Linked DNA regions of Homo sapiens. The protein of the gene in region 3 purifies or fractionates together with the protein of the main gene of each other region. This does not show direct contact. Each region holds a gene or a part of one and is shown on either strand. Other genes may lie near its edges.

Region 1 (4,079 bases), on a different chromosome or scaffold from region 3:
CTGAGGCAGGAGAATTGCTTGAACCCGGGAGGCAGAGGTTGCAGTGAGCCGAGATTGCGCCACTGCACTCCAGCCTGGGCAATAGAGTGAGATTCTGTTTCAAAAAAAAAGGAATGTAATGACTAGGGAAACATCTTGGATTAGATTAATTTGGGGGTCTCACCCAGCTCTCAAAATATATTTTTCCATGTTTTTTCTCTTTCATAGCAAGCAAATCCATGGACCAAAATGCCACCTCATTCAATACTCATTTTCACCTCATCCCTAGCAAACACAAGGCACATTTTAGCAGCATCTTTTTGATCACTCGATGGATACGGAACTGGGTTTCTGGGAGGTAGTTCTAACTTGGGTTTTAGCCTCAATCCCACCCCGAAATCAGAAGGTTCCCCTCTCCCTCCCTGCCTCTTACTTAAGGAGAGATCGTGTTTGGGGGTTGGAGGGAAGATCTGGAAGAAAGTTAAGAACACCAAGCTTAGGAAGGAGAGAATAAAGGATATAATTAAAATACAATAAAAAATGCACAGGCAAATGCTGGGCGTGGTGGCTCACGCCTGTAATCCCAGCACTTTGGGAGGTGGAGGCAGGTGGATCACTTGAGGTCAGGAGTTCAAGACCAGCCTGGCCAACATGGTGAAACCCATTTCTACTAAAAATACAAAAATTAGCTGGGTGTGGTGGCATATGCCTATAGTCCCAACTACTTGGGAAGCTGAGGCAGGAGAATCACTTGAGCCTGGGAGGCGGAGGTTGCAGTGAGCCAAGATTGTGCCACTGCACTCCAGCCTGGGTGACAGAGCAAGACCCGGTCTCAAAAAAAAAAGAAAAAAAAAAAAAGATTCACAGGCAAGATGCAGTGTGCTACAGAAGCAAGAGGTCACATGGTGTCAGTCACTCTCCAGGGCGTTTGTTCTTCATCTTCCAAAGTATTAGAGACGCAGCATGAGTTTCCACGGAGGTTAAGTGAGAGAGACTGGGAGATGCAGGGGTAGAAAGGAAAGATGAGAAAACGCAGGGTGTCTAAAAGGGTAGGTTTGCTGCTGCAGCTTGCCAGAATGCATCTGCTTTAAAGAGAAGGAGTGAGCCATAAGCTCCCAAACAGTCACCCATCTGTAAAGGTTGGTTAGGGGCACACTCACCTTCCAGGCTAAAGTATTCCTGCTAACTGGGATCGGAGAAAGATGAAGAGGATAAATCCTTGTCATCTCCTAGGACCCTGGAACCTTTGCCCCCTTTCTGGGCACCATAATAACTTGCTTATATTTCTGAGTAGTACAGAGGGGATTTTAAATGAAAATGTATTAGACAGGTTGCTGTTGAGCACATGCCCAAGTTTATTGTCTTGCTAACCAAGATATTATCTTGCTAGCCAAGGTGTTGTCTTGTTAAGGGAACCAGCAAGATGACAAAAGAATGGACCTTTCAAGTCAACGTCTACCCAAGCAGCCTGTTTAAGAAAATGATAAAAAGAAAACAGCTCATTAACATTGTCCTTTTCTTTCTTTTCTTTTCTTTTTTTTTTTTTTTTTTTAATTTTGCGGACCCACCAAAGAATGCAGCCCTTCTTTTCTCATGGTCATAAAAATATCACATTCGGTTGGGCGCGGTGGCTCATGCCTGTAATCTCAGCACTTTGGGAGGCCGAGGCGGGCGGATCACTTGAGGTCAGGAGTTTGAGACCAGCCTGGCCAATATGGTGAAACTCCGTCTCCAACTAAAAATACAAAAATTATCCGGGTGTAGTGTTACACACCTGTAGTCCCAGCTGCTCGGGAGCCTGAGGCACAAGAATCGAGGTGGAGGTTGCAGTGAGCGAGATCGCACCATTGCACCCCAGCCTGGACAACAGAGTGAGACTCCGTCTCAAAAACAAACAAACAAAAACAAACACATCACATTCTTATTAGTCATTTGAGGGAACCTGGAGCAATATGATCTGAGAGGCTAGGCTTGGCTAATCCCTAGAAAAAGTAGTAATACATCTAAGAAAGAAATCCCTCTTAGGGAACACCCGAGGCTGCCAGGTGACACAACAAAACTTTCTCATAAAAGCGTTTGATTAATCCGATTAACTTGTAAGCAAGCCATGTGGCAGAGGTAAGAGGCCAAACACCAAGGCACCAGTCCTGATTCTAAACAAGTGCTGGTCCATTTCTTAACTTTGGGATCCATTTTTTCTTTGTGATGGAATAGCAAAAGGTCAAAGTGGAGGAGGACTCAGCCCTTGGGTGTCTCCTCAACGAGGGTTTCTCGAAGGTAAATTGGGGAGGAAGGGAGAGCCCACGGCAGGTCAGTCCAACCTGCCAGTCACCACCTCTTTAAGGCCACAGCCCTGCGGGAGCAATCCTTTCAAATCCCCTTCCTTCCTTCTTTTAGAACGCCCCTAGAACGCCGATTAGGACTTCTCATCCCGGTCGGGCCTGCGGCTCTCTGTGACCCCACCTCTGGATTCAGCTTTTCCCAGGGATTCACACTCGGAGCTCAGGAGAGATGCTGCGATTACTCTGGAGACGGGAAGACAGGCGGGGCTGACGGGGCCCAAGGCCCCTAATCATGACCGGGGCCAGCTGGCAGGAGGGTCCTAAGTATACGGAGGGCGGCGGGACCCCCCCCACCACGCCCCTCATTTTCCGGGGTAGCGCACAAAGTCTGTGAGGCACTTACCCGAGTCTCGTGGCCGTCCGAGGGGCGCGGGAATCCCAGCTGAGGCCCGTGACGCGCCGGAGCCCTAGGCGTGGGCAGGGCCAGCACCAGCCCTAAGACAGAGAAGACGAGCGGAGCCCGGCTCCGCCAGGAACAGGAAGGCGAGGGAAGGTGAGGATGCGCTTCCGGGGCTGCAGGCGGGGAGCCGCCCCGAGTCCAAGCCGGAGAGAGCTGGTTCTCCCCCTGGCGATACGTGTGTGAGCCTCTGAGGCCCGCCCTAAGCACTGCTGCCCCGATCTAGCAAGACAAGAAGACAGGAAATTTATGACAGCCTGAAAAAGTCTTTAAAAGATACACACTGGAAGAATTTCGTAGTAAGATGAGGAAAAAAAAACGTGTTTCCGCCCGGTTTCGAACCGGGGACCTTTCGCGTGTGAGGCGAACGTGATAACCACTACACTACGGAAACCCACTAAGGGCTTATTTTTCAGAGTAAATAGTTCTTCCTGCCTAGTTCCGTGTTTCTTCGTTCCAAGTGCGTGTTTTGCTGATGTGCGCGTGCGTCTCTGTACCGACCTCTCAAACCAGAAAAACCAATGAAAAGCTCAGACCCAGCCCCTCCAGTGTTCAAACTGAAGCCATAGAATTTATTCTACAAATGACTGAATAGGGAAGAACACAATAGAGACTTTAATTTAATCTCTGAACGGTCCTTCGTTCTTCGGCCAAAATGGCCAGGCAAGGCTGGGCACAACTTGGGTAGGGCGAGCGTTTCTCTGGCGTAGTTGGCGTTACCACGTGGTCAGTGGCAGAATGCTCCGCAAAGAAATGATAACCCCATATGTTGTCGGGAGCTGCCCCTCTTGCTTCTGAGTCTTCCAGGCAAATTTATCTTGCAGGAATTTCCTTACTCCTGCGGAGTCAGAAAGTTGTAAAACGACCCTGCTTACACCGAGCCAGCCAGGAGTCGAACCTGGAATCTTCTGATCCGTAGTCAGACGCGTTATCCATTGCGCCACTGGCCCTGCGCGTACCTTAGGGGCGAGGTATTTCATAAGAAACTAGGTTGTACCCGTAATATCTGGGTGAACGCCTGTAAGCCGCGTTTGCCCGCTGGTCCAGGCTCGCAGCGCATGGACTCTCTGGTAGCTACTTCTGCACACGCCCCGTGGCCTTCATTCCTTTCTCGGTCTGTCTCTGCCGGCTGAAAAATGGCGGTGAAAAGCAAGCCCTGCATCCTCTCTGCCCCAATATCACCGCTCCATTAATGCGTTCGTTCATTCAACCAGTATTAGTGTTCAAGGCACTGCAGATAACGGTGAAGAAAACATGAGAGACCCTTGCCCTCAAGATTACATGGCAGTGGCGGAAGCGGATAATAAAGCATTAAATAAACAAAATAATAGTGATAAGCGATTGGAGAAAAATAATAATAA
Region 2 (3,500 bases), on a different chromosome or scaffold from region 3:
AAAGAAGATTCTACACCAATATTTTTATATTATATTAAAGTATGAGTCATTAGGCTCATTTTTAGAGAATATGGATAGTATTCTGAATTATATTTCCCAATTAATAGAAATGTAGGCTTTTAAACATTTTAACATCAGGTTAAACATTTTTAGTAGAAATCTTTCTAAAACTCATTCTTTATAACCACAGAAAACCATGTGTAGTTCACATAATTTAACTTTCTTCTGGTGATTAGCAGAAATCCCATTTTTTTCGTAATGGGCAATAACTTTTGAGTCCTGTAATATTGCTGACTAACCTGTATGACCTCGTATAAATTTTTTAACATCACCTCATGAAAATGTGCACTACACATCGCCACACCATCCCAGCCCTACACCTCCTATACTTTTTAGAGGCTTTACATTCCCGGAGATTCTTTTTTCATCTCAATGATAGGTTGGTGACACAGCAATATAGGAGACGATTCTCAAGAGGGTAGACTGTAAAGGAAATTTTTTCCATATTATAAGTAAAATAAATATTATCAAAAAGGCTTTAAATCACTGGTTCCTAATCTATTTTTAGTTATATTAGCTCTCTCAAGATCTGATGAAAACCATGGGTACTTTCCTCCATTTATGAACACCACCACCACAAATTTTGTGTACAACATCCCAGTATTATTGAACGGTCTAAAGTTTACCAACAGGCCTGCTATAAACCCAAAAACACCACGCAGGGATTTCTGTTTTGTTCACTGCTATATTTGAAGTACCTAGGATAGTACCAGACACACAGAAGGTACTCAGTAAATGTTTGTTGCAAGACTGAATACATAAATGAATTTGTATAGAAGGATATTCACTGCAGCATTGCTACTATTGGCAAAAAATCAGAACAAACCTAAAGGTCATTCACAGGTAAATAGTTAAGTAAAACTGTGGTACATTCATACTAGGAAATAATATGCGGAAATTAAGGAGTGCAAATATATCCATACCAATTTAGAAAACTATTAACAGTATATTGGAAATACATATACTGTTAATAAAAAAAGTTTCAGAAATGTGTGAATACATATGACTGTCTATATAAAGTAGTCCTTGTTAAAAAAAAAAAAGTCTGGAAGGTTACACACTAAAGTGATAATAGTAGCTACCTCTAGGACAGTAGTTCTCCAAGTGTGGTTTGGAGAGTCCTGGGGTCCCTAGGACTTTTTTGGGGGTCCACAAAGTCAAAATTATTTTCATAATAATACCAAGATACTATTTGGCTTTTTACCTCTTATTCTACGATGGGTTATTTTAGAGGAGACATGACATGACACATGGTGTAACAAGAAACTTGAATGCAGAAACAGACATGAGAATCTAGCTCTGTTACTAAGGTGCACATTAACTGGCAAAAATGTGAAGCAATGTCATTCTTCCCTTTCAATTATTTTTGTTTTAGAAAATATGGCCAGACGCAGCGGCTCATGCCTGTAATCCCAGCACTTTGGGAGGCTGAGGTGGGCGGATCACTTGAGGTCAAGAGTTCGAGACCAGACTGGCCAACATGGTGAAACCCCATCTCTACTAAAAATACAAAAATTAATGGGGCGTGGTGGCACGTGCCTGTAATCCCAGCTGCTCGGGAGGCTGAGGCAGGGGAATCACTTGAACCTGGGAGGGAGAGATTGTGGTGGGCCAAGACCGTGCCATTGCACTTCAGCCTGGGTGGCAGAGTGAAACTGTCCCCCCCCCAAAAAAAAAATTAAAAGAAAATATAGTTATTTTTTATTAAAAAGGGTCATTTATGTTAACAAGTAATAGGTATATTATTGTTAGCTTTAAATGAATACGAAAACAAATTCAGTTTTAATGTCTAATATAGTGAATACTGACAGATGTTAATTCACTATACAAAAAGCCCTTTAAAAGTTTCTTCATTACTTTTCAGTGTGTAGTGGGGTCCTGAGACCAAAATTTTGAGAACTCTTACTCTCAAGAGAGAGCTAAGCATTTTTAGGATTAAGGGGGAATGACAGACTTTCGCTTTATCTGTATAGCTTAATAGTTACAACCAAAATATATTTGTGTTACTTATACAATTACAAATATAAATACAATGATCCTTCAGTGTACAATTGCCTGTATTAATAGTGTTTATTTTCATTACAAAGTAGAGCACTCATGTGAAGCGGTTTTCCGCTTTCTAGCCGAGCAACCTCTCAGGATGCAGTTTCTATGGACTCAGGCCATTTAAAAGTTAACAAAAGATCAACACTAGTCACAGGTGTGAAGCCTCCGGGGTTCTCTTCAGTTCCCAGCCTAGTCCTCCAGCCTGTTAATTCTTCCCTCCCTGGAGGCTCCTTTCCAACATCAGGGGCCCTGCTTGCCCATGCCCCTTGCTTCTATAAAAACAAGGAAGGATATGACACAATCTATTTTTGGTTGGTTGATTTCATGAATATATTCACACAAAATCATGCCAAACAGCTATTTTAGCGTTTAAGCTTATCATCTCTAATTATGTAGCAAGATGCTTTCTTCATCAAGAAATTCCTATTTCCACTAATCAGGTTTAGGGATGTTTCTAGGCCTGAGGGGTTTGGAAATTCATATTAAGTCTACTGGACTGATCTCTGAAGAGAGTAATGACATCCTTTAGAAAGACTGTTAGTGGAGGGAGGAAGAAGAGGGCAATCATTCTCTCCAGATGGCTGTCTCTTGGAAGCCTAGTTCTAGAAAAATGCTGGGAGTAGAGTGATGGGGAAAGAGGAAGGCAGGAGCTAATGTAAGCTGAGCATCTACCATGGTCCTGGTACTTCACACCCTTTATCTCTTTAAAGGGTGAGGTGAGTAACATTTGCTTTTTTTTTTTTTTTTTTTGAGACGGGAATTTCACTCTTGTTGCCCAGGCTGGAGTGCAATGGCGTGATCTCAGCTCACTGCAACCTCCGCCTCCCGGGTTCAAGCAATTCTCCTGCCTCAGCCTCCAGAGTAGCTGGGATTACAGGCATGCATCACCACAATTCGCTGATTTTTTGTATTTTTAGTAGAGACGGGGTTTCACTACGTTGGCCAAGTTGGTTTCAAACTCCTGATCTCAGATGATCCACTTGCCTCGGCCTCCCAAAGTGCTGGGATTACAGGCGTGAGCCACCGCACCCAGCCACACATTTGCATTTTTAAAAGAAATAAATGCTCAAAAAGGTAAGTTACTCAAATTTCCCTATCTAGTAAAGAAATAGGGTAAGGATCCAAGTTACTCCTGTCGGAGAACAAAGTCCTACTGTCCTACCCCGTCACCGTACCATGCTGACTTCATGCTTATTACTCACTGATTGCCCATGGGTCTTCTTTCGAGATTTCTCTAGCCCTAATGGAGTACAGCACCCTGTCCTACCTTCTTTAGCCTTGATCTCACCCTAGGCCTTGAGAACACACATTCTCTCATTTCTGCTTCATATGGCACTGTTTGGGGGTAGTTATTGGTGGTAATATTACAGGTTCCCCTACTTATCCCCTTTTCT
Region 3 (3,500 bases):
TGTCACTGAGCCCCTAAAATTCTCTGCAAATATGTATCTGTACATACAAATATGCTTTTTCCAAAGAAATGTGTACATAATTTCCAGTGAATTATCAGAAAACTATGAAACTCCTCAAAAAGTGAATAATCCCTGTTTCAAGGTAATGAACTTAAACTTAACTCATATGGGTCCAAAAAGGTCCTTAAATTACACAAATGCAAAAATAAGTACCTTTCCTTTAAATATGATACGGTCTTTGCAATGTGTTCAGCTCCCCCATCAGGCATATCTAGAAACAAAAGAATCCACTGCTCAGGATGATGTCATCATTTAGAGCCAGTTTCTGGTAGAGGCCATGATGACACACTAACCATCTCGATCCACAGATGTCAGGACAACATAATCCAGACCCCATTCTGCAATTGCCTTTGCAGTATTGTAGGGCTCACTGGCATCCAGTGGAGGAGGATTTCTTGCAGTCTTAACAGAACAAAATCTGCAACCTCTTGTACATGTGTCACCCATCAACTAGAATAGAAATGTTACAATTTAAATGAAATAGACAGATGACCCTTAAGGACATAATGTTGAGAGAATAAAGCAAGTTGCAAAGAATGCATACAGTTTGGTTCTGTTTATAAGAAATTTGAAACATTCAAAACTAAATGATAGTCAAGGAACATAAATATATGTGATAAAACTAAAAAGGGAAATAATAAACTCAGCAATAAGAATAGTGTTCAGGGGAAAGGGGATGGGATCAGGAAAGGACGCAAAATTTAAATTTAAAAACAAAGCAGGGTGCAGTGGCTTGCTCCTGTAATCCCAGCTACTCTGGAAGCTGAGGTGAGAGGATTGTTAAGAGTCTGAGACCAGCATGGGCAACACGGTGAGACCCTGTCTCTAAAAATTAGCTAGTGTAGTGGCATGTACCTGTAGCCTCAGGTATTTAGGGAGGCTGAGATAGGAGGATTACTTGAGCCTAGGAGTTCGAGGCTGCAGTGAGCTATGACTGTGCCACTGCACTCCAGCCTGGGTGACAGAGTGAGACCCCCATTTCTTAAAACAAAATAGAAACACAACTGAAAAATGGGATTCTAATATACAGTTTAGGGGGTACAGAGGGGTATTCAAAGATAATGCTAACGTTTTAATCTCAAACTGGAGGTATGAGGGTGTCTGTTGTGTTATTCTTTATAACTTACACAGTTTATAAGATACTTTTTTTTTTTTTTTTTGAAACAGGGTCTTGCTCTGTAGTCTAGGCTGGGACGCAGTGGCATGATCATGTCTTACTGCAGCCTCAACCTGTTGGGCTCAAGTGATCCTCCCACCTCAGCCTCCTCAGAAGTTGGGTATACAGGCAAGTGCCACCATGCCCAGCTAATTTTTAAAAACTTTTTTTTTGTATGGACAAGGTTTTACCATGTTGCCCAGCTGGTCTTGAACTCCTGGGTTCAAATGATCTGCCTGCCTTGGCCTCCCAAAATGCTGAGCTTACAGGCATGAGCCACTGCACCCGGCCTATGAAGATACTTTTATATCTATTCAATAATAAAAAAAGATGATTTTAAAAGACATAAAATATATGACAGATCAATGTACAGGTCTCTATGGATGTAAAAACAGAAAGCACAGCTCCTTCTTGTTGAATATGTTAAACAGAAAACACATAAAAAGCTAAGCAATCATGAATAATGTTTCCAAACATTGATAGGAGAGGTATCTCAAGGCAGCACGTGATTAACTATCACATAAATGAAAGAACCAATAATAGATTTATTCAGAGAAGGGTGAGATTACAACAGGTTGGATTATTCCATCAGGTTTTTTCTTAATATTTTTCATAAATGCAAATGTAATGAAAAATCTGACCAGAGATTCATAATGCACATTTTTAGGAGGAAGACACAAAATAGTCCCTTTCAGTTTCTAGACTAAAGCCATAGAGGTTGAGGCTGGCCCTACCATGATCGTGGCTGTGGCGGTGGCATATTCTCCACCTCCCCAACACTCTCCAATATTGGGACATCGAGCTTCCTCACATACCTGTATGCAAAAGGAAATGGAACACCATTAGGTTGACAATATCCACCAACTAAACAGTTGGTGACTGTGATTAGACATTTTAAACTTCTCATTGTTTACAACATATTTTTGAAGACATTCACTATTCAAAAATGCTGTTAAGACCAAGTGCGCTGGCTCATGCCTGTAATTCCAGCACTTTGGGAAGCTGAGGCAGGAGGATTGCTTGAGCCCAGGAGTCTGGAACCAGTCTGGGCAACATAGTGAAATCCTGCCTCTACAAAAAATCAAAGTTAGTCAGGCGTGGTAATGTGCACCTATACTCCCAGCTACTCAGAAGGCTGAGGAGAGAGGATCACTTGAGCCTGGGAGGTCAAGGCAATTGTACCACAGCACTCCAGCATAGACAACAGAGCAATGCCCTGTCTTCAAAAAAAAAAAAAAAAGGCTGTTAAACTGCCCAACTCTATATTAAGATTAGAGTGTAGTGAGCATGTCCTATAGAGGTGTACTCCCTTACATAATTATGTAAGAATGGACAGACTTGAATTTTTATTTTTTAAGATGGAGTCTCACTGTCGTCCAGGCTGGAGTGCAGTGGTGCCATCTCAGCTCACTGCAATCTCCACCTCCCAAGCTCAAGTGATTCTCCAGCCTCAGACTTCCAAGTAGCTGGGACTACAGGCTCACGCCACCACGCCCAGCTAATTTTTTTTGTATTTTATTAGAGACGGGGTTTCACCATGTTGGCCAGGCTGGTCTTGAACTCCTGACCTCAGGTGATCCTCCCACCTCGGCCTTCCGAAGTACTGGAATTATAGGTGTGAGCCACCGCACCTGGCCAAAATCCAATTTTTAAATTAAAAACTTTACGAATGTATATACTTCATATGTGCAAATAAAAAAGTCTGAAAGATTATATACTGAAGAGTTAAAGGTAAAGGAGTATGGTTTATATATGGCATTGCGTATGTGACATACCTTCATATTTAATTTTATATTCTTTCCAACAAATCATATATCTAATTTGCAATATAAAACAAACAAAGCCTTGTTTCCAAACTCGTAGGGCAAAAAATCTCTTTGTTTGCCGGAAAAATGATTCTAAATATATTTCCATTCCTGGTAGTAATGTATCACTTAACATATTTACTTTCTTTGCTATTATTTATATATTTATTAATAATTTTTAAGTTATATAAACGTAGAAACATGGCTTTTGGTGAAGAGGGATAGTTTACACTTTGACAACTTACTGTATGGAGATTTAAATTCCGCAAAGTATTTTTCAGTTTATTGTAATTTTTCCCCATGGGAATCTCTGTCTTTAGCCATGGAGGTAGTCTTAACCTAAGGAAAGCCAAACATAACTATCTATTAACAAATATGCTGCCAAATAATTACACAGCTTTGAAGTTAATTTCTTCTATTACAATTCCTAGTTAATAATTTTTTCTATAACCTTAGAATAACTCTTATAATTTCTGTCA
Region 4 (3,500 bases), on a different chromosome or scaffold from region 3:
TCCAGCCTGGGCAACAAGAGTGAAACTCTGTCTCAGATTCTGAGACGTCTCGCCACCACGCCTGGGTAATTTTTTTTTGTATTTTTAGTAGAGACGGGGTTTCTCCATGTTGGCCAGGCTGGTCTCAAACTCCTGACCTCAGGTGATCCACCCGCCTCAGCCTCCCAAAATGCTGGGATTCCAGGCTGCCCAGGCTGGAGTGTAGTGGAGCGATCTCGGCTCACTGCAAGCTCCGCCTCCCGGGTTCTTGCTATTCTCCTGCCTCAGCCTCCCGAGTAGCTGGGACTACAGGTGCCCGCCACCACGCCCGGCTAATTTTTTTATATTTTTTTAGTAGAGACGGGGTTTCACCGTGTTAGCCAGGATGGTCTCAATCTCCTGACCTCGTGATCCACCTCGGCCTCCCAAAGTGCTGGAATTACAGGCGTGAGCCACCGTGCCCGGCCATGGCCGACATTCTTTAACTCCTATTTGTTATTCAGACAAGGCTCTCTTCCTGATCGGTTCATAAGAGTTCCCTGAAGTATAATAATGGATGTGGCTGACAATAGCCAAACAGTGCTTCACAGCTTGCCAAGAGTGTACACATATTCTTGTTTAAATTTTGACTAGTGAATCTATTACAAGATGTTTCTTGAGGGCAGGCACAGTGGCTCACACCTGTAATCCCAGCACTTTGGGAGGCTGAGGTGGGCAGATCACTTACAGTCAGGAGTTCGAAAGCAGCCTGGCCAACGTGGTGAAACCTCATCTCTACTAAAAATACAAAAATTGGCCAGGCATGGTGGTGGGCACCTGTAATCCCAGCTACTCAGGAGGCTGAGACAGGAGAATCGCTTGAACCCAGGAGGCAAAGGTTGCAGTAAGCCGAGATCATGCCATTGCACTCCAGTGTGGGTGACAGAGCAAGACTCCGTCTCAAAAAAAAAAAAAAAAAAAAAAAAAGTTTCTTGGCATCAATGTGAAAACTGTTAAAAACTCTAAACCAGCAACCTCACTGAACATGATGTAGTGCTGCACAGTGCCTGACATAAAGACCTGAGATAGGCCAGGCGCGGTGCCTCACACCTGTAATCCCAGCACTTTGGGAGGCCAAGGCAGGCGGATCACAAGGTCAGGAGTTCAAGATCAGACTGGACAACATGGTGAAACCCTGTCTCTACTAAAAATACAAAAACTAGCCAGGTGTGGTGGCGGATGCCTGTAATCCCAGCTACTGGGGAGCCTGAGGCAGGAGAATTGCTTGAACCCGGGAGGCAGAGGTTGCAGTGAGCCAAACTCATGCCATTGCACTCCAGCCCAGGCCAACAACAGCGAGACTCCATCTCAAAAAGGGAAAAAAAAAAAAAAAAAAAAAAAAGACCTGAGATGTGCCATGTCCTGAGGAACAGGGATCAGAGAAGAACTGGTGTCTCCCTCTCCAGTCACATAACACACTTTGTAAGTGTGCTTTCTAACCATTATGTAAACAGATTTTACAGTCACTAATCCTGTCATTTGTAGGAATTTACTGTCATTTTTAAGTCTCAACAACAAAAAGTAAATAAAATTTAAAACCTCCAATGGCTCCCCAGTGCCTATAAAATAAAGTCCTAATGCTTTAAAACAGGACACGGGATACATCCCACCAGGACCCACCTTCCATGTTACTGCATTTCAGGAGCAGCTCACACCCCACCTCTCATGAAGCCCTCCGACCTTGTGACAGCATCACACGTCACAACCATGACTGCCCTGTCCCACCAGAGACCCTGTGTCATCCGTCCACAGCACCACACGCAGCAGGTGCACAATAAACGTGCTGCTGAAAGACGTGGTCTGTGAAGAAGGCGCCAAACACAGACTGGCTCTTCCTGCCTCCCTGATGGTTACCTCTTCAAAGTTGGTGACTTGCTCCACAGGCACTTTCTCCTCTTCCTCAAGGGCGTGGCGCAAGGTCTTCTCAACCCGCTGCAGCAGGAAGTCAAAGGCGGCAGGATTCTAGCACAACAGTGAGACGACGGGGTCAGAGGGGAAACACACCCACACTAGCCTGCCTCAGGTTTGACGCTGTGGCTGCACGTGGCAGGTTGTGCCCGAGAAAGCTCCGGAAGGACTCATGTGCACAATCTGCAGTGCACTGCCCTAAAGAAGCCCCCGGGGGGTGCTGGGCCAGAGAAGCCACACCCGGTGAGGGGCCGTGGGACAGGATGGGGAGAAGGGGCTTTATTTCAGCCCCTGCAGCTTCTGGGTCCTACCACAGCACAAGAGTGGGAAGAATCTGAATCCCAGGGAAGAAGCACACCATCCTAAACCGGCAAGGGATATCGCTGCGGAAAACCCCAGACTCGAGGGCCTCCACGTGGCCCCCGACGTAGGTCTCAGAGTCCAGCACGTGTCCGTCGTCCGTCAGCTTATTGAACTCCTGCTCTTGCTTGTTGGGGAAGATGATGTTGGCGTGGAAGGCCTGCACCATCAGCAAGGCCTCACACAGAGTGCCAGAGCCCTTCCGCAGCACCTGCAAGAGAAACCAAGGCTTCCAGCCAAAAGCAACACCAAAGGCCCTGACTTGCAGGCAAAGTCCAGGAACCTAAGCTGAACTTCAGTGTGAAAGGAGAGAAAACCTCGTGGTAAATGGCTGCAAATTCTGCCTCCTGTGGTTTCTTCCTCACACCAGGGCCAGAGAATTCCCAAAGGACATCCCTGACGTCACACACCAGAATTCTACTGCCGCCTCTGGTGCCAGCACTCCTGGGACATCCACCTCCATTCAGCTCCAGTGCATTTGGAATGGGGCAAGGGCTGAGGAGGCCAGGGTGCCGACAGGACAGATAATGCTCACCTCGTCGGGCTCCATGGGAATAATGGTGCACAGAGCAAAGATGAATGGGTGGACGTACTTCATGTACAGGTAGTAAGTGGCGACAGCATCTGACACAGAATACGTGGCCAGAGTCTGAGGAGAGAACGCCAGAGAGCAGGGCCATCAAAAATCAAGAGCCCAGGGTCAAGTGTGAAGCACAGAAAGCAAAGCCTGGCCTGACCAGCCTGCCGCACACACAGTAAGGAGACCGGCACAGGACAAAACACGTGTGTCCCGGAGACACAGCCTGCTGGGTGGAGCGGGCTGGCATACATGCGTGCACACGGCAGCAGGGGGAGCCGGGATGTGGCTCACATGCCTGGGGCTGCTCCGTGGCCATCTGGATGCGTGCACACGGCAGCAGGGGCAGCCGGGATGTGGCTTACGTGCCTGGGGCTGCTCCGTGGCCATCCGGCACATGTCCTCCGGGTCTAGCTCCACGGGATCATAGCCTAGCTTGGCCTTGGCGGCCGCCTTGAGATTATGACTGCCCACAGGAAGGTAACTGTCCCTCTTCACCCACCTGGAAGGAGAATGAGAACAGAAGCCAGGATGATTCTAACATGCAGCCCGGGAACCCCTGAGAACTGGCAAAACTGGGCACCACACAGACAGATGCAAGTTCCTAACAGGCACCCAGGAGCCTCACACCAAGGCC
Region 5 (3,483 bases), on a different chromosome or scaffold from region 3:
CTTGGCTCACCGCAAGCTCCGCCTCCCGGGTTCACGCCATTCTCCCGCCTCAGTCTCCTGAGTAGCTGCGAATACAGGTGTCGGCCACAACGCCCGGCTAATTTTGTTTTTGTATTTTTATTAGAGATGGGGTTTCACCATGTTAGGCAGGATGGTCTTGATCTCATGACCTCGTGATCTGCCTGCCTCGGCCTCTCAAAGCACTGGGATTACAAGTGTGAGCCACCGTGCCTGGCCATGATTTTCTTAATGACATTTTTTCCTCTAGCTTACTGTAAGCATACAGTATTTTACAATACATACACAAAATATGTGTTAATTGGCTGTTTATGTTATCAGCAAGGCTTCCAGTCAACAGTAGGCTATTAGTAGAAAAGTTCTGGAGGAATTAAAGTTATATGCAAATATTTGGCTGCACAAGGGTTGGTGCCCCTAACCTCTGCATTGTTCAAGAATCAACTGTATCCAAATGAATAAATACACTGCAGAACAAGAACACGTTGCAGCTTAGTAATAGTTTTACTTATTAACTTACTTAAAAAGAGATAATGAACATTTGTGAAATTGTTTACAATTGAGATATCCATACACACAAGTCATGTGCTGTGTGATGTTTTGGTCAGTGACTGCATATATGATAGTGGTCCCATAAAATTATGATCCTATATTTTTACTGTACTTTTCTGTTCAGATACACGAATACTTACCACTGTGTTACAACTGTGTACAGTACTCAGCACAGTGATGTGTTGCACAGGTGCGTAGCTTAGGAGCAACAGGCTGTACCATATAGCCTAGGTGTGTAATAGGCTATACCATCTAGGTTTGTGTCAGTGTACTCTATGATGTTCACGTCACGATGAAATCACCCAAGACACATTTCTCAGAATGTATCCCCATCATTAAGCAACACATGACTGTATATATACATTTACTAATGTTTGTTATTTTTAATACAGAAAAGTTTCTTCTTTGCTTTTTAGAAATTTTATCAGTTACAAAAGGAAATAACATTTAGAAAACAGTTTCAACTTTCATAGGCAAAACATACACATGAACCACACATAGGGCTGAGTGGATGTTTCCTTATTGCTAAGTCCATAGCCTCTAGTATGATGCCCAAGTGTCATAACTACACTCCCACATCAGCAAACTCCTCCCTCTTAATATGCTCAGTGATTTCTATCTCACCCTTCCTTACTTCCTTTGCAATTCAAGTAAGAAAACAAACAATTTAGATGTTCGAGTATAGGAAATATTTGCCGAGACCAGCTTGGTCATGGAGACCCTAACCCAGAGGCGCTAGAGAAATTAAAGACACACACCCAGAAATATAGCATGCAGAGTGGGAAATCAGGGGACTCACAGCTTTCAGAGCTGAGAGCCCCGAACAGAGATTTACCCATGTTTATTGACAGCAAGCCAGTGATAAACATTGTTTCTATAGATTATAGATTAACTAAAAGTATTCCTTCCCAAACGAAACAAAGGCATGGGGTCTGGCTAGTTATCTGCAGCAGGAACATGTCCTTAAGGCACAGATCGCTCATGCTATTGTTTGTAGTTTAGGAACGCCTTTAAGCCGTTTTCCCGCCCTGGGTGGTCCAGGTGTTCCTTGCTCTCATTCCGGTAAACCTTCAGCATGGCGTCATGGCCATCATGAACCTGTCACAGTACTGCAGAGATTTTGTTTATGGCCAGATTTGGGGGCATATCCCCAGCAAATATTGGTTAAGTCTGTGCTTCAGACTAGATTTTTCAAGTCTACTGGCTTGTTTGAAAAACGCTTTTAGACAACACATCAGGTTTGTAACTTTTCACAAGTTTAAAATATTTCAAAGGTCTTTGAAAATTATAAAATCTTGAAATATCTCTATTTTAGTTTTCCGAGGGGTGCTGTTTTGACAGATTTGAAATTTTTTTATTTGAATAAAAAGCCATCACTCTTTCATTCAATTTAGTGCCTAGATGTTTCCTTAGAGCCTGGGTTGTTGTTCCAAGAATCTGTGGAGAGTACCAACTTAGCCTGCTGCTGCAAAGACGAAGGAATCCTTTCTCAGAGAAAACTCAAGACTGAATATGGTAGACTGGATTTTCCAGAGATGGCTGTGGACATAGGCTATCAAAGGGTTTTTGGGATACACAGTCCCACATGCCCCTTCCCTCCCATTGCATTCACAATGGATCACCTTTCGATTAAATTTCACCAGCTCATCCCCGGTAATTTTTTATTTGACTGGAAACATGGGCTTTTAAAACACACACAGGGCTCTCCTTTAGCCTGCAGAATGTGGGTATATCTTTACTATTTTCTCCTGCTCATAAAAATACATGCTTTTCACTAAACGAGTTAAATAACCACCCATAATTCACCCACAAGTTTGGTGTACTTTCTTCCAGTATTTTAAATATGCAAAAATATCGTTTTATTTGTATTTACTACCTGTGTAACTATATGCTTAGCCTTTTTCCCCCCATTTTGAGTTTATTTTTAATTCAGGGATTAGGTAGCCAGAGTCTGGCCTAGTGACTTCTGACCTTTCACTTGTGATCTCTTATCCATCTTCGGCCAGAGGCCTCTTTTTGTAGCCCAGCCTCATCTCTTGTGGACCTTGAACAAATTTCTCCAGCTACTGTCAAATGCCTGAGATTTGTTAACCACACCATTTATTTTTGCTAACACTAGTTAACAAATAAGCTTTTCTAGAAGAGCTAGGTGGAATATGTCATCAGAGACTTGGAATGAAAACAAAATACCCTTGGTAACTTACTTGCACCTGCGTCTTCCTCAGACTGCAAAGTGGTCACCAGCAATTCAGAGAGGCTCCAGTAACAAGCAGCTTCACTTTTTATCACGTAACCTAACCATCTTGAGGTTATGTGTCAAAGGAAGAAGACATTTCCTTTTCTAAAAAGTCAACTGCTTTCTTCTTTACTAAAACAATTTAGGGGCTGGGCGCAGTGGCTCACATCTGTAATCCCAACACTTTGGGAGGCTGAGGCAGGTGGATCACGAGGTCGAGAGTTCAAGACCAGCCTGGCCAAGATGGTGAAACCCTCTCTCTACTAAAAATACACTAGGCGTGGTGGCACGCGCCTGTAATCCCAGCTACTCGGGAGGCTGAGGCAGAGAATTGCTTAAACCCGGGAGGCAGAGGTTGCAGTGAGCTGAGATCACACTACTGCACTCCAGCCTTGGTGACAGAGTGAGAGAGACTCCGTCTCATAAAAAAAAAAAATGTAGGTTTGTCCTTCCAAATTGTTTATCAAATTTTGGTAGATTCAGGAGTTGGGTAACACACAGTAACTGGGCAGCTGATATAAAGTCTGTATTTTTATAACTACTCAAGAGCCAGGAAGCCAGCTTTCTGCTAGCATCTTTCTCCTAACATACCATTGGCACATGAAGTTATTATTTCAGAGCTTAATTATATTTCCTGACTACACAAAAAGCCAATGCATTAAAAAAAGGCCCACCTTTAT
Region 6 (3,148 bases), on a different chromosome or scaffold from region 3:
TCAGCTCACAACGGGGTGATTGAGGCTTCTTGGTTAGAAGCTTTAGAAACTTGAGGTCAGTAAAACCCAAATTGATCCTTTCTCTAGATCCTCTAGATTTCTCTAGAGGAAAAGGTGACAAAAACAGACACTTGTGCTCACCGTCAGGGGCACAATGCTGTCCGTCAATCCTCATGCAGTCCTCCCCACCATTTCGCACACTGACACCATCACTACTTTATGATAAAAGGAGACTCAGGCAGCTTAGATAACAGCTGAAACTCAGCCAGCTATGACATGGAACCTCTGAGGCCCAGCTCCTTGCCTGGTCAACCCCCAAGCCCACAGAAATGGGTTTCACACTCAGGCAAAGCACTGGGCCCGACTGACTGAGCAAATGTAATTTTATGCTTACATTATTGATCCTGCTTTAATATCAGCCATTTCGTACAGGTCTCAGAAAGAGAAAGGCCTGCCATCGAATTCAAATGACTTTGGTCTTTAAATGAAAAAGCACAATGTTTCTCAAATATCCAATTTTATTTTATCATTCTCGCATTGTGGGATGCGATCTGCAGCTAGGATCGGAATTCCCAGGCCTATAGATTTTTAAACCACACCACAGGGGTAAACCTTAAAAGAAGTGAAACCTAACACTATATATATTTCCATTTCTAAATACAGTATATTACAGAAGTTTAAATATACCACCTCTGTGTACTTACAACTATAAAAAGATACAATAACTCTACCAATTATAAATAATGTAGCATTTCATATTAAAGACATTATCGTACAATGGAAGAATAGGAACCCTCTAACGTATCACTATCAAGGTTAGTGTCTATATCTACTTGAGATAAAATACTGAAAATTCAGTGTATGAAGCCAAATCCTGATTTAACAAGTTATTGGTAGTATAAGTGATAAGTGTTAGCTGATGAAGGGAAGGCAAATGTGGTAATTTATATCTCTGACAAGGGTGATAGGCCCATTTTATACATGGTTTTCGTTATACACACACTGGTTCTGTTACGGGCCCTCATTTTATTATTGCCCTCCCCAACTTAATTTGCAAACTTAAGCACTACTTTCCCAATTAGGAAAGTACTAGTTAGTAACCATAAAAGTATCCGTCGGATAACACATTTGTTTTTGTTTTTGAAGCTATATGGGAACACTTTCAGTTTCCCAAGTTAAAACATGAAATTGCACATCATCATTTGGATCCCCAAAGAGGAAAAGAAAAATTCACAACCTGCCAGTGAAATACTCAGGCCACTTGGATGAAGACCGAGGTCCTCCATAGAATCCAGGTGTTATTTACTAACTAATCAGAAATTAATATCAAAATAGGACTTAAAAATAACAAGGCTGTGTTATTACAGCAGTCTTTCCAGTTGTGTACGCTTTACTAATCTAAATTGGGTAACAGAACTGGAGAAAAGGAAGACTACACAGACTTATCATAAGCTGTTAGTGAACGTGATAGAAATGCGTAATTTGTTAAAGCGAATTACAGCTCTGATTTGTCAAATGAGGAGGTGAATTATCCTAGGATTTGCTATGCTGTTGTGGCGTTAGAAGATTGGATCTTTAGCAGCAAAGGTAACCTCAACAATATTTTCTGCTTAAGAAAGTGCCTTGGTTAAGGTAGACCGTGATATCGTCTTTGACTAAGCTCTCTGGGCTATTGATTCTGTCATATTCCAAAGGCAGTATTGGTTTGAAGCCGAATCTCACGGTCAATGTCAACATGCAATCCACAAAGACCCTGGCGCCCTTCCACGGTATGCACTAACCAAAACTTTCTCACTGTGAAATCCTTTTTTTAAAAACAAGAAAACAAAAAACAAAAACCAAAAAACCTTACTGTGAATCCTTTCCCAAGGAATGGTCCCACCTTCACCTCGGAAAGAGGCGTGGCTTGCTCTGTAAGCAGGTCCACCCTGAGGAGACCGCTGGTGCAAGAGCCCTGCTTGCAGAACACACAGGGGGTTTTCCCACATTCTTACTGGAGTCAGATTCGGCAAAGCATTTCAAGCAACTGCTGGACACTTCAAATACCACTCCCTGTTAACAACGCCCTGAGTATCTCACTGTCTCCAGGATCTGGTTTAAAGGGAAACACAGAAATGGCCAACAGCTCCCTCCCCAGGCAGGACTGCGATTTCACAGACAACCTATAGGCATCCCCAGTCTGGTGAATAAACAGGAGAGTGAGAGGAAAACAGCAATCATTCAACTCCAGTAGATGTAAAGCCTCCAGAAGAATGTGTCCCGGGAAGGTCAGAAATGTCATTTTTTTCCTCCAGCACATTTCATCTGCCACATTCCGCCGTCCGATGTTTGAGGAAGGAGCCCCGCCTTTCCTTCAGGGGTTCTTGTCGCCAAGTTTGATGGTGACAGTTTTCACTTCTGTGTATTCGGCCAAAGCGTATTCACCTCTGTGATCACAGAAAAGAGGAAAATTCAAAATGGGTACATCCCTTAGCCATTGTGTAGAAACTGTTCTGAGGCTTCATCATTCCATCAGGCCGTTGGAGGCTTATGCAAAAGGTTAAAATGTGACGACCTCATGGAATAATAGCCAGGACTATAACAGCACTAGTAAGTGTCAGTAGCTGCATATGTGACTTAAATGTAAATATCAAGGTCTTCTTCTGTGTGATGCTTTTGAAATGGCCAGGACTAAGGGTTTCCCTTTAGAGAATGAAGGGGATTTTAAAAAAAGTAAAGAGGTGAATTCCCTGGGGTGGCAATAGAGAGCAAAACGAGAGAGCCTGGTGGACGGTGGGGTGTCTGTGAACGAGGGAGGGGCAGAAATTACACTGGGTTGATAACTTTTAGATGGCAATTGGGAGCTGCTTGAAGAGGAGACAGAAGAGGCAGAGGCCCAAAGCTATTGGCTGGGGATGTGGCCAGAGGACCAGTGGGAAGAACACCAAGGGCCTGAAGCTGGCCTCAGAGTGCACAGCTGGGGACCAGCTGTCAGGCAGTGAGGCCAGCCTAGGGGGCATGAGAGAAGCAGACGTTAGCACAGAGTGGACATGGGGAGGCCACAGCTTTTGGGTTCACATCCTTGGTATAGTTCCTTTCTTTAAATCTTGCAGGGCTCAGGTGATCCTTCCCTGGCACCATGGGCCGTCTTCAGGGTAGCTTCCCTTCC
Region 7 (3,500 bases), on a different chromosome or scaffold from region 3:
AAAAGGTGAGATAAATGGGGACTGCTAAGGTTATAAAAGTAAAACTAGTGAAATATCTTAGTGATTGGGAATGGAAACTAGTTGTAGGTAATAAATTATTTGGAAAACAAATCAGAGTGTTACCTCAGATCTTCAGTAAATAGCAGGCTCTACTAAATAGGAAAATATTGGTAATAAAAAGAAAAAATATTCTAAAGTTGTCTGAATGAGAAAAAAAGGGCAGCATATAAGCTGCAAATATACATATATATTTAGAAAAAAATAACACAAATGATGCATAAAGAAGTCTAATTATCAACTGGAAATCAGAAATAGAAACAGGCGATTGCTGAAGACATTCAGTAAAATGTGATAGTCCATGATGAGAAACATTACTGGAAGAAAACAAAATAAATCCAGTATTCCGTCTATTAAATACCAACGTGGGCCAGGCGTGGTGGCTCACACCTGTAATCCCAACATTTTGGGAGGCCGAGACAGAAGGATTGCATGAGCCCAGGAGTTTGAGACCAGCCTGGGCAACATAGAAGGACACTGTCTCTACAATAAAAAAAAATAAAAAAAAAATTAGCTGGGCATAGTGGCATGCACCTGTAGTCCCAGCTACTCGGGAAGCTGAGACAGCAGGATCGCTTGAGCCTGGGAGTTAGTGGTTGCAGTGACCCATGATCGCACTACTGTATTCCAGCCTGGGGAAACAGAGCAAGATCCCATCTATATGTATGTGTAGATAGATAGATATACACACACACATACATATATGTGTATCAACATATACCCTAACTTGGGATATTATCTATTGGTTATGTCATTTCACTTAAGAAAAAATTGTAGAGCTAGGGCAATTTCAAATAGGGTAACTAAATAATGAAAGTAAGAGAGCTAAAAGATGACTTACTAAATCTAATCAAGAAAAATAGGAAAAAAAAAAAAACCAAAACCCTTTAAGATATAATCACATTTTTACCTATAAAAATTTTTATATAGCATAGGCTATACGTAAAAGAACTAAATAACTTTAAAAAATAAATATATAATTTCCCACTTATAAAATAACTAGTTGTAAGAATTAGATAACATATGTAAAGCACTAGGGCCATATCCGACATTGAATATATTAAATAAATGTTCATCCCTTCTTCTCCTTAAAAAATATGGAAGAAAGAAAACTGAAGAATGGGGGGCTGGACGTGGTGGTTCACACCGGTAATCCCAGCACTTTGGGAGGCCGAGGTGAGCAGATTGTTTGAGCTCAGAAATTTGAGACCAGCCTGGAAAACATGGCGAAACCCTATCTCTACAAAAAATACAAAAATTAGTTGGACATGGTGGTATGCACGTATAGTCCCAGCTACTAGGGAGGCTGAGGTGAGATGACTGCTTAAGCTCAAGAGGCTTAGGCTGCAGTGAGCTGAGATCATGCCACTGCACTCTGACCTGGGTGTGGAGTGAGACTTTGTCTCTAAATAAATAGCCGCAAGAGAATACTGGACTAGATGACTAGATTTAACATGTCACTAACCCAGTATGTCCCCTTTTTTTCTTTTTTGAGATGCAGTCTCGCTCTGTCGCCCAGGCTGGAGTGCAGTGGCCCGATCTCCGCTCACTGCAAGCTCCGCCTCCCGGGTTCACGCCATTCTCCTGCTTCAGCCTCCTGAGTAGCTGGGGCTACAGGCGCCCGCCACCATGCCCGGCTACTTTTTTTTTGTATTTTTAGTAGAGACGGGGTTTCACCATGTTAGCCAGAATGGTTTTGATCTCCTGACCTCATGATCTGCCCACCTCGGCCTCCCAAAGTGCTGGGATTACAGGCGTGAGCCACCACACCCGGCCCCCAGTATGTCCACTTTTAAGGACATAAAGAGCTCAGACTAATCCTTTCAATTTGCTTAAGGGGAGTTTAATAAATATTTTTGATTTTCACACACTATCAGGCAAGTGATTTAAGTTCCGTGGATATATGTCAATTAACAGATTTAAAAGGATACATAGTTCAAATTTAAATAGTTCATGTCCCATTAATCTAGTAGACATCAAAAATGGAACAGCCCTTTCTAGCAGATACTGCCTTGACTGTTGAAAAACATAGCATATTTTTTATAGGCGTGGTGGCTCACGCCTGTAATCCCAGCAATTTGGAGGCCGAGGCGGGTGGATCACCTGAGGTCGGGAGTTCTAGACCAGCCTGGCCAACATGGCGAAACCCTGTCTCTACTAAAAATATAAAAATTAGCTGGGCATGGTGGCAGGCGCCTGCAATCCCAGCTACTCAGGGTGGCGGGGGGGGGCGCCGAGGCAGGAGAATCACTTGGACCTGGGAGGCAGAGGTGGCAGTGAGCCAAGATCGCACCATCACACTCCAGCCTGGGGGACAAGAGCAAGACTTCATCTCAAAAAAAAGAAAAAGAAAAGAAAAAGAAAAACATAGCATATTTCGCTTGATTCTTGTGACATTTAGAGGACAAGAGAGTAAGACCCTGTCTCAAAAATAAAATATAAAAATTAAAGAACAGAAAGAATGGAAATGTTGGAGAGAGAGGCATTGGACTCAGAAAAAAATGAAGAGTATTTCAAGTCTTATTTTATATAATCCTATGTTTACCTTTGTGACAGTGATGAAATCTGGTCCAAAGAAGACACTTTTTACTCCTTCAATCCTAAATAACTGCCTGCAAAAAAAGAAAAAATAAGAGATATTAAAATGCTTGATTATGGAAAAGTTTAAACATACACAAAAGTAGAGAAAAGTAAAAAATTCTCCACATATCCTTTGCAGCTTTAACAATGATCAACTCATGGCCAATTTTGTTTTATATTCCTACTCTACGATTTAGCAATCCCACTCCTAGTTATTTACCCAAAAGAAATAAAAACTCGTGCTCCACAAAGACTTGTACATAAATCTTCATAGCAGCTTCATTTAAAATAGCCACACATACAGAAAAATATGGAAATGTCCATCACCTGGTGAATGAATAGACTGCTATATCTATACTATCAATCATTCATTCAACCAATATTTGACACCTACTAAGTGCCAGGCACTGTACTGAGCACTAAACAGACTATTTTTTTTTTTTTCTCTTTTGAGACGGAGTCACCCTCTGTCCCCCAGGCTGGAGTGCAGTGGTGAGATCTTGGCTCATTGCAACCTCCGCCTCCTGGGTTCAAGCAATTTTCCTGCCTCAGCCTCCCAAGTAGCTGGGATTACAGGCGCCCACCACCACGCCCAGCTAATTTTTGTATTTTAGTAGAGATGGGGTTTCACCATGTTGCCCAGGCTGGTCTCAACTCCTGACCTCAGGTGATCCACCCACCTCCCAAAGTGCTGGGATTACAGGCATGAGCCACCACACCCAGCCTAAACAGACTATTTTCAAAAGACTAACTTGAAAAGAGATTTTGCCAACTGAACATCTGACAGAAATAATCTCTAACTAATCTATAACTGAATTAATTGGGGCTTTTTTACTTTTACTTTTTTAATACAAAATATGAAC

What was found.
Region 1: the proteins of LIAS (region 3) and HMGN4 purify together in Homo sapiens (co-immunoprecipitation; one large-scale study listed by IntAct). This does not show direct contact.
Region 2: the proteins of LIAS (region 3) and NDUFAF5 purify together in Homo sapiens (affinity purification with mass spectrometry; one large-scale study listed by BioGRID and IntAct). This does not show direct contact.
Region 4: the proteins of LIAS (region 3) and POLE purify together in Homo sapiens (co-immunoprecipitation; one large-scale study listed by IntAct). This does not show direct contact.
Region 5: the proteins of LIAS (region 3) and CTSV purify together in Homo sapiens (affinity purification with mass spectrometry; one large-scale study listed by BioGRID and IntAct). This does not show direct contact.
Region 6: the proteins of LIAS (region 3) and ALDH1A3 purify together in Homo sapiens (affinity purification with mass spectrometry; one large-scale study listed by BioGRID and IntAct). This does not show direct contact.
Region 7: the proteins of LIAS (region 3) and NFU1 purify together in Homo sapiens (co-immunoprecipitation; one large-scale study listed by IntAct). This does not show direct contact.

The regions. Positions count from the first base shown.
Region 1 is NC_000006.12:26,537,087-26,541,165, reverse strand, and holds the start of HMGN4 (high mobility group nucleosome-binding domain-containing protein 4), read right to left. Parts: upstream 2,801-4,079; 5' UTR 2,665-2,800; intron 1-2,664.
Region 2 is NC_000020.11:13,802,028-13,805,527, reverse strand, and holds part of NDUFAF5 (arginine-hydroxylase NDUFAF5, mitochondrial), read right to left. Parts: intron 2,379-3,500; coding exon of another isoform or gene 2,196-2,378; exon of another isoform or gene 2,112-2,195; intron 1-2,111. UniProt on the Homo sapiens protein: Arginine hydroxylase that mediates hydroxylation of 'Arg-111' of NDUFS7 and is involved in the assembly of mitochondrial NADH:ubiquinone oxidoreductase complex (complex I, MT-ND1) at early stages. May also have methyltransferase activity.
Region 3 is NC_000004.12:39,462,056-39,465,555, reverse strand, and holds part of LIAS (lipoyl synthase, mitochondrial isoform 1 precursor), read right to left. Parts: intron 3,361-3,500; coding exon 3,267-3,360; intron 2,032-3,266; coding exon 1,951-2,031; coding exon of another isoform or gene 1,915-1,950; exon of another isoform or gene 1,742-1,914; intron 511-1,741; coding exon 354-510; intron 272-353; coding exon 214-271; intron 1-213. UniProt on the Homo sapiens protein: Catalyzes the radical-mediated insertion of two sulfur atoms into the C-6 and C-8 positions of the octanoyl moiety bound to the lipoyl domains of lipoate-dependent enzymes, thereby converting the octanoylated domains into lipoylated derivatives.
Region 4 is NC_000012.12:132,670,343-132,673,842, forward strand, and holds part of POLE (DNA polymerase epsilon catalytic subunit A), read right to left. Parts: intron 3,366-3,500; coding exon 3,233-3,365; intron 2,936-3,232; coding exon 2,822-2,935; intron 2,498-2,821; coding exon 2,285-2,497; intron 1,981-2,284; coding exon 1,873-1,980; intron 1-1,872. UniProt on the Homo sapiens protein: Catalytic component of the DNA polymerase epsilon complex. Participates in chromosomal DNA replication.
Region 5 is NC_000009.12:97,029,177-97,032,659, forward strand, and holds the end of CTSV (cathepsin L2 preproprotein), read right to left. Parts: 3' UTR 501-3,483; downstream 1-500. UniProt on the Homo sapiens protein: Cysteine protease. May have an important role in corneal physiology.
Region 6 is NC_000015.10:100,913,979-100,917,126, reverse strand, and holds the end of ALDH1A3 (retinaldehyde dehydrogenase 3), read right to left. Parts: exon of another isoform or gene 2,427-3,148; coding exon 2,354-2,426; 3' UTR 501-2,353; downstream 1-500. UniProt on the Homo sapiens protein: Catalyzes the NAD-dependent oxidation of aldehyde substrates, such as all-trans-retinal and all-trans-13,14-dihydroretinal, to their corresponding carboxylic acids, all-trans-retinoate and all-trans-13,14-dihydroretinoate, respectively.
Region 7 is NC_000002.12:69,416,936-69,420,435, forward strand, and holds part of NFU1 (NFU1 iron-sulfur cluster scaffold homolog, mitochondrial), read right to left. Parts: intron 2,670-3,500; coding exon 2,603-2,669; intron 1-2,602. UniProt on the Homo sapiens protein: Iron-sulfur cluster scaffold protein which can assemble [4Fe-4S] clusters and deliver them to target proteins.